3 linked regions of the Homo sapiens genome follow. The protein of the gene in region 1 interacts with the protein of each later gene in a pairwise test. Each region holds a gene or a part of one and is shown in the gene's direction. Other genes may lie near its edges.

The links.
Region 2: the proteins of GOSR2 (region 1) and TMEM106A interact in binary tests that used the Homo sapiens proteins (3 or more experiments, as listed by UniProt).
Region 3: the proteins of GOSR2 (region 1) and TMCO5A interact in binary tests that used the Homo sapiens proteins (3 or more experiments, as listed by UniProt).

The regions. Positions count from the first base shown.
Region 1 is NC_000017.11:46,929,660-46,933,314, forward strand, and holds part of GOSR2 (Golgi SNAP receptor complex member 2), read left to right. Parts: intron 1-1,439; coding exon 1,440-1,548; intron 1,549-2,407; coding exon 2,408-2,540; intron 2,541-3,655. UniProt on the Homo sapiens protein: Involved in transport of proteins from the cis/medial-Golgi to the trans-Golgi network.
Region 2 is NC_000017.11:43,214,859-43,217,846, forward strand, and holds part of TMEM106A (transmembrane protein 106A), read left to right. Parts: intron 1-929; coding exon 930-1,083; intron 1,084-1,590; coding exon 1,591-1,731; intron 1,732-1,838; coding exon 1,839-1,882; intron 1,883-2,400; coding exon 2,401-2,454; intron 2,455-2,822; coding exon 2,823-2,943; 3' UTR 2,944-2,988. UniProt on the Homo sapiens protein: Activates macrophages and polarizes them into M1-like macrophages through the activation of the MAPK and NF-kappaB signaling pathway.
Region 3 is NC_000015.10:37,941,061-37,944,715, forward strand, and holds part of TMCO5A (transmembrane and coiled-coil domain-containing protein 5A), read left to right. Parts: intron 1-88; coding exon 89-145; intron 146-610; coding exon 611-670; intron 671-1,130; coding exon 1,131-1,195; exon of another isoform or gene 1,196-1,227; intron 1,228-2,280; coding exon 2,281-2,338; intron 2,339-3,655.

The DNA.
Region 1 (3,655 bases):
CTCTGCCTTGGGGGCTTAATGATTCAGCGTGGAATGAGTTTTGTTGTTAGGGTGGACAGAAAAACCCTATGGCAAAGTCACTGATTTCCCTGAGTGTGCCCTTTGGAATCCCACAAGTCTTATCCCCCATTACCCCTCCACTCAACCTGACATGGCCCTATGGGAATGGAAGCGCTTGCCTCCATCTATCTTAATCTAATTACCTAGTCCTTAGAGGAATGTACTCCATAAAAATTCAGAGATGTTTAACTGGAATTGGCCATTTCTTCTGAGCTGAGAACTGTGGCTTTTTAGGAGGATTATTCAGAAACGAACAGCAATATTAATTAGTTTAGTTCCCACAGCATGGTTTCTTTTGAGAAGCATGCTGGTTTTTTGTTTTTTTTCATTTTTTTTTTTTTTTTCTATTCTGAGGAAAGGTCCTTTTTCTGAGTTGGTCATATGGACACCACCTGCGGGGGCTGCCTACCCACCCCACTGCTGGGCTCCCTCAGGACCCATTCCTCCTGTTCTCTCATGTCTCCTTTCGCAGCTTCAAAAGCAGCTCTGTTCTTGGTTCTGTGCCCCACCTTGTTCTAATCTCAACTGTCTTTGTTCACTGTGGGCACAAAGGGCTAGGAAGGGGCAGTGTCACTGCTGTCACTTCTTTATGGGGCAAGAAGCAGTCTGGATGCTTTCTTTTGTGCACAGTTTAGCTTCTTTGTTCATCGGACTTTGTTTGCCTTCTCAGCAATCTCATTGTTACATGATTAGAAATGGAAAGAGGTCATTTTGACTGTCTTATCGAAAGGGATAGGGAAAATGACCGTATTTATCGTATCTCTTTACCTCTGTGGATTCTTTCCTGGGCCTTTCCTATTGATATTTGGTTTATTTTGGGGACGTCAACATTGCTCAGCCCACCCATTCTTACAGAAAGCTTTAAGGGAAGAAAGCCTTAAGGGAACTCTTCTCTGTATGTTTCACATACTAATCTTCCCCTTCCTTTATGCTTTTTTTTTTTTAAATAAAAAAAAAAAAACTCATTACTATAGGGAATTCAATTGGCAGCCTTTTTCTAGGTATTTATAATCCACGTCTGAGAATCCCAAAGGAAAAGAGACCTATATCAGAAAATTTAGCTTAAAGTATTTATTTGGACAACCTTTGCATGTTTATTTTCTAAAGGTAGGAAATTTATTTCTACAGATTTACCTTCAGCTTTTTTAAAAAATTGGCATTGTTATGTCATTAACAGCTATATACATGTACTTTTTTCAAAACAACATTTACGGCCTAACTTGAATTTTTTCTGTTATTCATTAGTGTATACATTTTTCTCCTTTTGAAATATGTAGTTCTAGTTTATTGGATATTGAAAAAAAAATCTGTGATTTATCATTGTAATTTAAGTTCACTATCTCTTTTCCAGCAATTATTCTTTTTTCTTTTTTGTACAGTAGTAGAAAACGAAATCCAAGCAAGCATAGACCAGATATTCAGCCGTCTAGAACGTCTGGAGATTTTGTCCAGCAAGGAGCCCCCTAACAAAAGGCAAAATGCCAGACTGTAAGTGCTGACCTCTGACATGGCTCTGATACTCCAGGCCCATCAAGACAGGCTTTTCTCCCTGGGGGAGGTGATAGAATATTCTGAAAACCAACGTACATGTTGAAAAACTATGACTATGCAAAGAAAAAGCCCCCTCAAAGGGCACAATTCTATCTGAGTGATGCCGCTCAAAATAAATAGCCTGTGAGGTTTGTGACTCAGAAACCTTGTGACCCCTTACCTCTTTGGTGTCATTTTGAAATTTTGCCTCCAGTTCTGTTTTTTGACTAGATCCATAGCCACCTGAAGCCTAATGTTGCCATGGAGTTTTGTTCTGCTCTTTGGTTCCTGCTGGGTTCTTCTTGGGTTGAAATGAAAAATCACTTCAATCAGTCCACCCATAATGAAATGCTGATCTAATGTTTGATACTCCAGCATGAAATTAAAATGAAACCACCCTTGCCACCTCCACCCCCAGCGCCTGTTTCCAAAAGTTTTATGAAACTTTGTGGATGCTTTACCTCAAAGATGCCCTTGGGCTTCTTCCAGGAGAGCCATATAATCCATAGAAGGTCAAGAAGAGGTCAGTGAGCCTGCTTCCTGTCCCCTGTTCTCTGTCATGCATCCAGAATCAGAGCAACAGATTCTGAAGTCAAGCTGCTGGAATCTTGTGTGCTACCATCTCACTTTAACCACAAGTTTCTTCTTGACTTTCAACATCGTTGATCAAAATTAGATCTTGTGGTGAGGGGGTATAGTGTGGGGTGGTGTAGGGAGAAGTAAGGAAACGCCGTCTTTCCTCAGTACAAAGCCTGGCCCCCTCAGATTCTGCTGCCCTGAGTTCCTGGAATTTAATCTCTCTCTCCATCAATTCCAGTCGGGTTGACCAGTTAAAGTATGATGTCCAGCACCTGCAGACTGCGCTCAGAAACTTCCAGCATCGGCGCCATGCAAGGGAGCAGCAGGAGAGACAGCGAGAAGAGCTTCTGTCTCGAACCTTCACCACTAACGTAAGCCAGGCCCGTGGTGAGGGTCGGCCTGCACTTGACAGATCGTGGGGGCTGGAGTTCAGATCTCTGAGCGCCATCTGTTTTGGGGGTGTCTGAAGAAGACTGATGATGAGGAAACCAACTGGAAATGACAGGAACTTTGTGCATTGCCACAGAGACTAGACCTAGACAGAGAATCCCTTTTTCTAAGACAAAAACCTGAAGAGGAAGCAGTTAAATTGAAGGGGAATAGGCAGAGGTGAAAATTACCTGGTTGGGCTGGTCTGAGACAGAAAGGTGGAAGTTCACATGGTGGAAACGTTTTTCTGATCAGATAGAGACAGATGATTAGAACTTAGGCCATTTGTAGAGAAGGCAGCATTTCAAAGCTGCCTGCGGGCAGTTGCCATTGTGCCGAGTATGTGTGTGGCTCCAGTGTCAGGTGCATTAAGATGTTTTTGCCCCTAGTCTGAGCAGCAATTTGGAGGAATTTGTTAACAGATGTTTAGGGTTAGATGGACTGCTTGCCTGAGTCTGTCTGAAAGTGTGTTGGTTTGCATGTTTGATTTTTCAGAACCCATTGTCCCTGCCCTTTAGTCTTAACCAGATCATTTCCTGCACATGGCTGTAGAACATACTGGCCTTTTCTGTGTCCTGCATAATATATTCCACTAAATGAAGTGTGCTTTGGCTTTTTGTATTTTGTTTTTTTACAGAGGATTATTTTCTAAAGAGATGTTAGCTTTCTAAGCCAGTTGTTAAAATTCACATCATTTCCTGCTTTGTAGATGTTTAACCCTCAATGCTGCATCCTTGCTTTGCAATAAATTTTCCCAAGTGTTTCAGGCTGTGCCAACATAGTTTTTGCTTCCCCAGACTAAGCAGTCAAGTTACAGTGTTTAACAGTTCAAAAATTTAATGAACTATAAGACACACTAAAAGATGTTTGGATTTTAGATCGTTATAATGTAGTATTCAGGCCTTTTTTAGGCCAAGGATGATCGCTTGGGATTATTTTGTTTTTTGCCAGCCTGGCGTGATGCTGTGCACACCGTCAGTTCTTAATAAACATTGACTTGCCAGATGAAACTTCTTCCTGGTCATTCTACCATATGGAGCTATAATACATTTTTCTG
Region 2 (2,988 bases), 3.7 Mb from region 1:
CTGAGGCAGGAGAATTGTTTGAACCCAGGAGGTGGAGGCTTCAGTGAGCCAAGATCATGCCACTGCACTCCAGCCTGAGCAACAGAGCGAGGCCTCATCTGAAAAAAAAAAAAAAACAAAAAAAAACCCTGTAATCCCAGCACTTTGGGAGGCCAAGGCGGGCAGATCACGAGGTCAGGAGTTTGAGACCAGCCTGACCAACATGGCAAAACCGCCTCTACTAAAAATACAAAAATTAGCCGGGCATAGTGGCAGGCACCTGTAATCCCAGCTACTCAGGAGGCTGAGGCAGGAGAATGGCGTGAACCCGGGAGGTGGAGGTTGCAGTGAGCCGAGATCGTGCCACTGCACTCCAGCTTGGGCGACACAGCAAGACTCCATCTCAAAAAAAAGAAAAAAAAAAGAAATTAGCAGTGCACATCATAAGATACTAACAAAGTACTATCTCTTTAATGCATATCTGAATTTTGAATTGGATGGATGGTGTCCTGTTCTGAATGTTAAAATTCAGAACTTCCAAATATGGACTTATTTCTTCTAGTGATAATAACTAGCATTCATTGTGCTTTTGCCATGTGCAGGGACCTGTGATTAGTATTTTTTCATATATTAGCCGATAACAAATTCTGTGAGGTCAGTACAATTATCTGCCTTTTACCAACAAGGAAACTGAGACTTAAGGAGGCTAAGTGGGCTGCTCCATGTTATTGGGTCAATGGGAACAGAGATCTGGGAGTGGAAACCAGGCTGCCTGCCTGCCAATCCTGTGCTCCTACTCATTCCGGGCCACATCTGGGGAGCTAAATGTTGTTGGGGTAGTGTGCAGGGGAAAGCTTTGTATATGGAGAGGAGTGTCTGAACCCCCTCTCCGAGTTTCCTTGGTGTTCAGACTTTTCCATTCCTCCATCCTGGGTCCTGCTTTCCCACAGGAAGCTCTTTGTGTTCCTGGCCGTGCTCATCTGCCTGGTGACCTCCTCCTTCATCGTCTTTTTCCTGTTTCCCCGGTCCGTCATTGTGCAGCCTGCAGGCCTCAACTCCTCCACAGTGGCCTTTGATGAGGCTGATATCTACCTCAACATAACGGTGGGTGGGTGCCCTTGGCTCCAAACCCCCCTTCCTAGCAATACTTCGCTGTAACCTTTGTCCAGTGTTATGACCCTGGGCATGGGAAGCCAGAGATCTTATGGCACCCAGAGGGTGTTGGGAGCCTGAAGAGAAGTAGGAGCAACCATGAGCTCCATGACAGATGGTAAGGATTGGGACTCTACACAGTAAGGGGTCAGAATCCGGGCCAGATAAGTAAACCACAGGGGTGGAGTGGGGTGACAGTGCCTGAGACTCTCTGGATGGACAGGACTGAATGGAAAGAAGCTGTACAGGATGGACCTGGATCCTGAGGCAGCTTAACTTCGTAAAGTTGACCCCTCACCATTCAATGCCCCTCCAAGGGGCTCCCAGTTTTCATCCTCTGCACCTGAAGCTTGTCATGGTAGATGGGGCTCAGGCCAGACAGCCAGGCTTTTGCAACTGTTTGGCTTTTCCTAAGGATGGGCCATCTTCACTCCTCCCTTCCCTTGTCTTCATCCCCAGAATATCTTAAACATCTCCAATGGCAACTACTACCCCATTATGGTGACACAGCTGACCCTCGAGGTTCTGCACCTGTCCCTCGTGGTGGGGCAGGTTTCCAACAACCTTCTCCTACACATTGGCCCTTTGGCCAGTGAACAGGTGACTCCCCTCTCCCTGGCCAGCCCTGCCCACTGGTGTGTGGATGTGTGGTAGTGGGAAAGGGGCAGCTGGAGTTGGGGCTAACCCTGTGCCCATTTGGTTGACAGATGTTTTACGCAGTAGCTACCAAGATACGGGATGAAAACACATAGTGAGTACCCCTTGATCTCTTCTCCCCTAGCCACTTGCCTGGCTTAGGGACCCAATTAATACCCACCAGCTTTCCTGATTGCTTAGCAAATTCTTCAGCCAGCATCTGGCCTGCCCTCCCATGGCCGAGAATGTAATAAGCAAGGGTTCAGGGTCCCCAGCCTCTGCTTGTTTGGACCTTGATTAGAATGAAAAACAGGCTGGAATTTGGTTAATCTTTACAATATGTGACCTTGGGCTCTTCAGCCTGCATTGCTGAGGAAGAAGAATGTTTTGTCTGTCTCCTGAATGGGGGTCCAGCATGTGCCTGGGCCAAGTGAGTGGAGGTCAGAGTGATAGTGCAGCCATGCTGCTACACTCACCTGAAGGGTGGGAAGGGGTGGGAGTGACATTTTGGGGGCACCTGATGGAAGGAAAGAGTTCTGTGGGGTAAGGAAACTGGGACCTGCAGGCATCTTCTGAGCTGACAGGCTGCTCCATGTGACACGTGGTCCCACGTTCTCTTTTCTTCTCTCTCAGCAAAATCTGTACCTGGCTGGAAATCAAAGTCCACCATGTGCTTTTGCACATCCAGTAAGTAGAGCTTGGAGCTCTGGTATCCCTGCTCTCACTTCTGACTTCATTCTCACTCAGCTACACCTCATGGGCAGAGAGTCTTCCAAGCTGACCCCATGAATCTTTGTTGGCTCTTGGGAATAGCAAGTCTAGCCCCTTTTCTGAGTCTCACCTTGCCTATAAGTTATTAGGGGCAACAGGCATAGGGCTGTCTGGAAGCTGCTGGAAAACAGGTGGGGCAGCTGTCCCAGGTACCTTGGCAGAGTGGGGAGCCAGAGGGAAGGGCAAATGAGGGAGCTCCCCGCTCCCCACCCCCAGACAGTATAATGGGGCCAGAGCTTTCCTTTTCCTCCCAGCCATGGCAACAAGGCCTGCTTCCTCTCCAGGGGCACCCTGACCTGTTCATACCTGAGCCATTCAGAGCAGCTGGTCTTTCAGAGCTATGAATATGTGGACTGCCGAGGAAACGCATCTGTGCCCCACCAGCTGACCCCTCACCCACCATGACCTGTCTGCTGTCCCTGTACTCCAGGCACCTGCAACCCTGGTCTA
Region 3 (3,655 bases), on another chromosome or scaffold:
ACAGCTCGTGAGGCCACCTTGGTGACAGCATTCCATTCCTGCACAGCTTTTACCTTGCCAAGTTAGCAGTCTCTTTTGCTTTCTTTAGGTTAAGTTACAACAGCTGGAAGCTTCCTATGCATGCCAAGAGAAGGAGCTGCTCAAGGTAACAGCAGGAACTTCAATGTGACTTCTCCCCAAAAAGGGAAATGTGATCTTTGGTCAGGCAATCTATTTCTCAAGTGATTGATTTACATTAAGGTTCCAGATCCAAGACCATGATGGGGCTAGGGAGGGGTAAAGAAAAGGAAGATAAGCACAATCCCTGAGGTTGCTTTCTCTTCAAACATTTTTTTACAGAATACACTCTACAGTTTGTATCTCGCAAATATTAGTTATCTATCTATTCCTCTCCCAACTGCCCCCAAATTCCACCTTTGACCAATAACTCCCATTTAGCTTTTTTACCCTAAAAAAAGGAAATACATTTATCTGTACAGCAAAAAAGAAAACATATTTAGAACAATTAGAAAACCACATTTAGGACCTGGGACCCAAGAGAAAACAAGTATGCTTGTGTTCTTATAGCAATTTACCGAAATATATTTACAACTAAATTTTGATTTCCTAGGTAATGAAGGAGTATGCATTTGTGACCCAGCTCTGTGAAGATCAAGCCCTCTACATAAAGGTAGAGCTTCTTGGTAAAGGGATAGCAAAGGGTTTATTAAGGTACAGGATGAAATAGAACAAGGATTTTCAAAGACTACTGTCCAGAGCAATTTCAACAGTTCAAGGTGGCACTACTAGGATACTTTAAGGTCATCAGCACCCCACCTCACTATCAATATCACTCTATTTGTCTTTGTCTCCCTGGGAATTCCTGCCCTGCTCTCCCACTCTCTGTGCTGTTAAGTTAATAATTCACACTTCTGCTATTTATAATGTCAATGATGCCCAGAAACCTGTCCAGTGGTAAGGCATAGTGAGAGATCAAGAGTAGTAGGGGGGTGAGTTTTATGAAAGCAGAGAAAGTGGCAGTGGGAATACCAAGCATTCATGGTATCATGTAATAACAAGTGCTTATTATGCTTAGAAAAATTGTAAACCTTCTAAGTAGTAACTGTGGCTTTCTTTGTTTCTCTTTGAAGAAGTACCAGGAAACGTTGAAGAAAATAGAAGAAGAACTAGAGGCTCTGTTCCTTGAGAGAGAAGTGTGAGCTTTGGCAAAGGAACATCCTGGTTTTGGTAGAAACTCCATCTCAGCCTGAGTCAGAGCAAACAGTTCTCAGACCAATTTCTATTTGGAATTGAATGAGTCCCGACGCCACATATCTTTGCCCTCTGTTAGTGATCTGGTTGACCCCAGTAGATCACACCAACTTAAAACTTCCAGTCATTCTCCCATCCTTCTAAAAAGACCACAGAAACACATCTCCCTTCGTAATGTTATCACATTATCACATTATTATTCGGGTTGATATTAAGAGTAAAAACATGTACTTTAGAAAGAGTTGGTGGTCAGTCACCTTGATAAGTAGGGTATTCCTTATATATCACAGAAAGGCCTTTTCATTAATACCATCCTCACTTCCCCCAAATATATGGACACCCAACCATAAGGGATAGGCATGAAACTAATCTCTAGACTCATACTACAGCTACCACATTATATAAATCAGAACTGTACACTGTATTGAACTACGAACATTTAAAATTAGAGATGGGAAAGCACTCCTCAAAGTACAATGAGTTTGTCAAGAGTCTAAATGGTGAGAAATCCAAACCAAAAACCTCATCTCCATTTCTTGACCCCCTCTGTAAGTTAAATCTTAATGCAGTCAAGAAGTATTTCTATTTATGAAATATTTTTAAATCCTTAGATCAAGAACAAGAGATCAAAACTGCATATAGCCTCTCTCTATATATATATAGTCCAGGGTCCTAGGACTTGTAGGTCCTTGCCCCTAAAGGACACCTTCAAGTCACTCAAGATCCCTGCTGAACATTGGTTTATGGCTTAACTGTTAAGCCAAGATTCTAGAAAAGGTTGCCCAGTAGAATTTTCTGTGCTAGTTAGTAGGTAAAACTAACTACATATGGCAATTGAGTACATAAAAGATGTACTCAACTGAGGAAATTAATTTAACTTTAATTAATTTAAATAGCTATAGGTAGACAGTAGTTACAATATTGGACAGTACAGATTTAGAATATAAAGCTTTTTTAAAATAACCATAGTGTAGTATGAATATTTCAGTGCACTTTGTTCAATTTCTGTCCTGGCTGTTATCTTCATAGATCAAAACTCGTGAGCATGAACCCTGTGGAAAAAGAGCATACCAGCCAAAATAATGAGGTAAACACTCCATTCTCTCTTCAGCTCCTCACAGTGTCATTGCCTTTCAAAGCCATCTCCAGCAAACTATAAGGCACCAAATATATACCCAATCTTGCCATGCGCATTTTCCAAGAACAGTACCAGCTATAATTACAGAGCATTCCAACCCTAAACAAACAAACTAGACTCTAAGGAACAATCTACTTTCTTCTCATTCAGCCATACAAATAACAGGCTCTCAAAAAACTAGCCGAAGACCTAAGAGAACTCAGAATGGAGGCAAGAAGCAACCTTAATTGAGGGTATGCTCTATAGAAAGAGGCCAATATAGGGCACATACACCACCTCTTCCATCTCCTACAATCACAGTACTCTTTCCTGATGATCTTGACATGGTTCCTAATCTCTCACAACACAGAGCACCCACCATCTGTCATCATCTAGTCAGAATTGGCCTGTGAGTTAAAACATAGAACGCTATTGCTTCTTTGTGACAGAGTTTCAGTGTCTGTTCATATTTAATATAGCAAAGCCACCAGCACACATGTAAAGGTCTGAAGGAAAAGAACAATTTCATACAGAGCACCAATCCTCTTGGCCTGCTTGATGTCTTGTGGCAGCAAGGATAAAAGGTTAAAGTTAAACTTTGGTTGGGCTTTAATTTTGTAATTTATATTGGCTTTAGAGTCCAGGTTGACAAACATCAGAAATTACAGATAGTCAAGATAAATACTTAGAAAAGAGAACTAAACACTTCCTTAAAAGCAAATATCAAATATTGGCCATTGTGTTTGGGTCATCCAAATGTTTGGATATATGTTAGGCCATGTCCATGGTTCTTAAGAGTACTGAACAAGTCATTCTGGCCCCGAAGCTTGCATATTCTGCTTAGTAAACAAAATCCCTGAAATTAACTCGACCCACTTCTGTAGAACCAAGTTTTTGACATCTCCAATGTGTCCTACCATCTCTCCCCACAGCTCATCAAAATATTCCTTCTAACTATGTGTCAGAGGAAAAAATTAAAGTTGTCTACATCAAGCTCATCAGGGTCCCATGATGGTTCAATGACCTAGTGATGTCTGAGCAACTTTGGAGACAGGATGCCTGAGAACTGACTGTTTGGCAGGCCATGTAATCTTACTCAAACTATAGATCAAAATTTGTAATCCTAAAAGTTTCTTTCTAATTCAAATTCTGTAAGCCTCTTTTCCACAGCTCTAATTTTTTTTAGTAGAAAGATGAAGTCTCACTATGTTGTTCAGGCTGGTCTTTAACTCCTGGGCTCAAGGGTTCCTCCCACCTCAACCTCCCAAGTAGCTAGGACTACAGGCA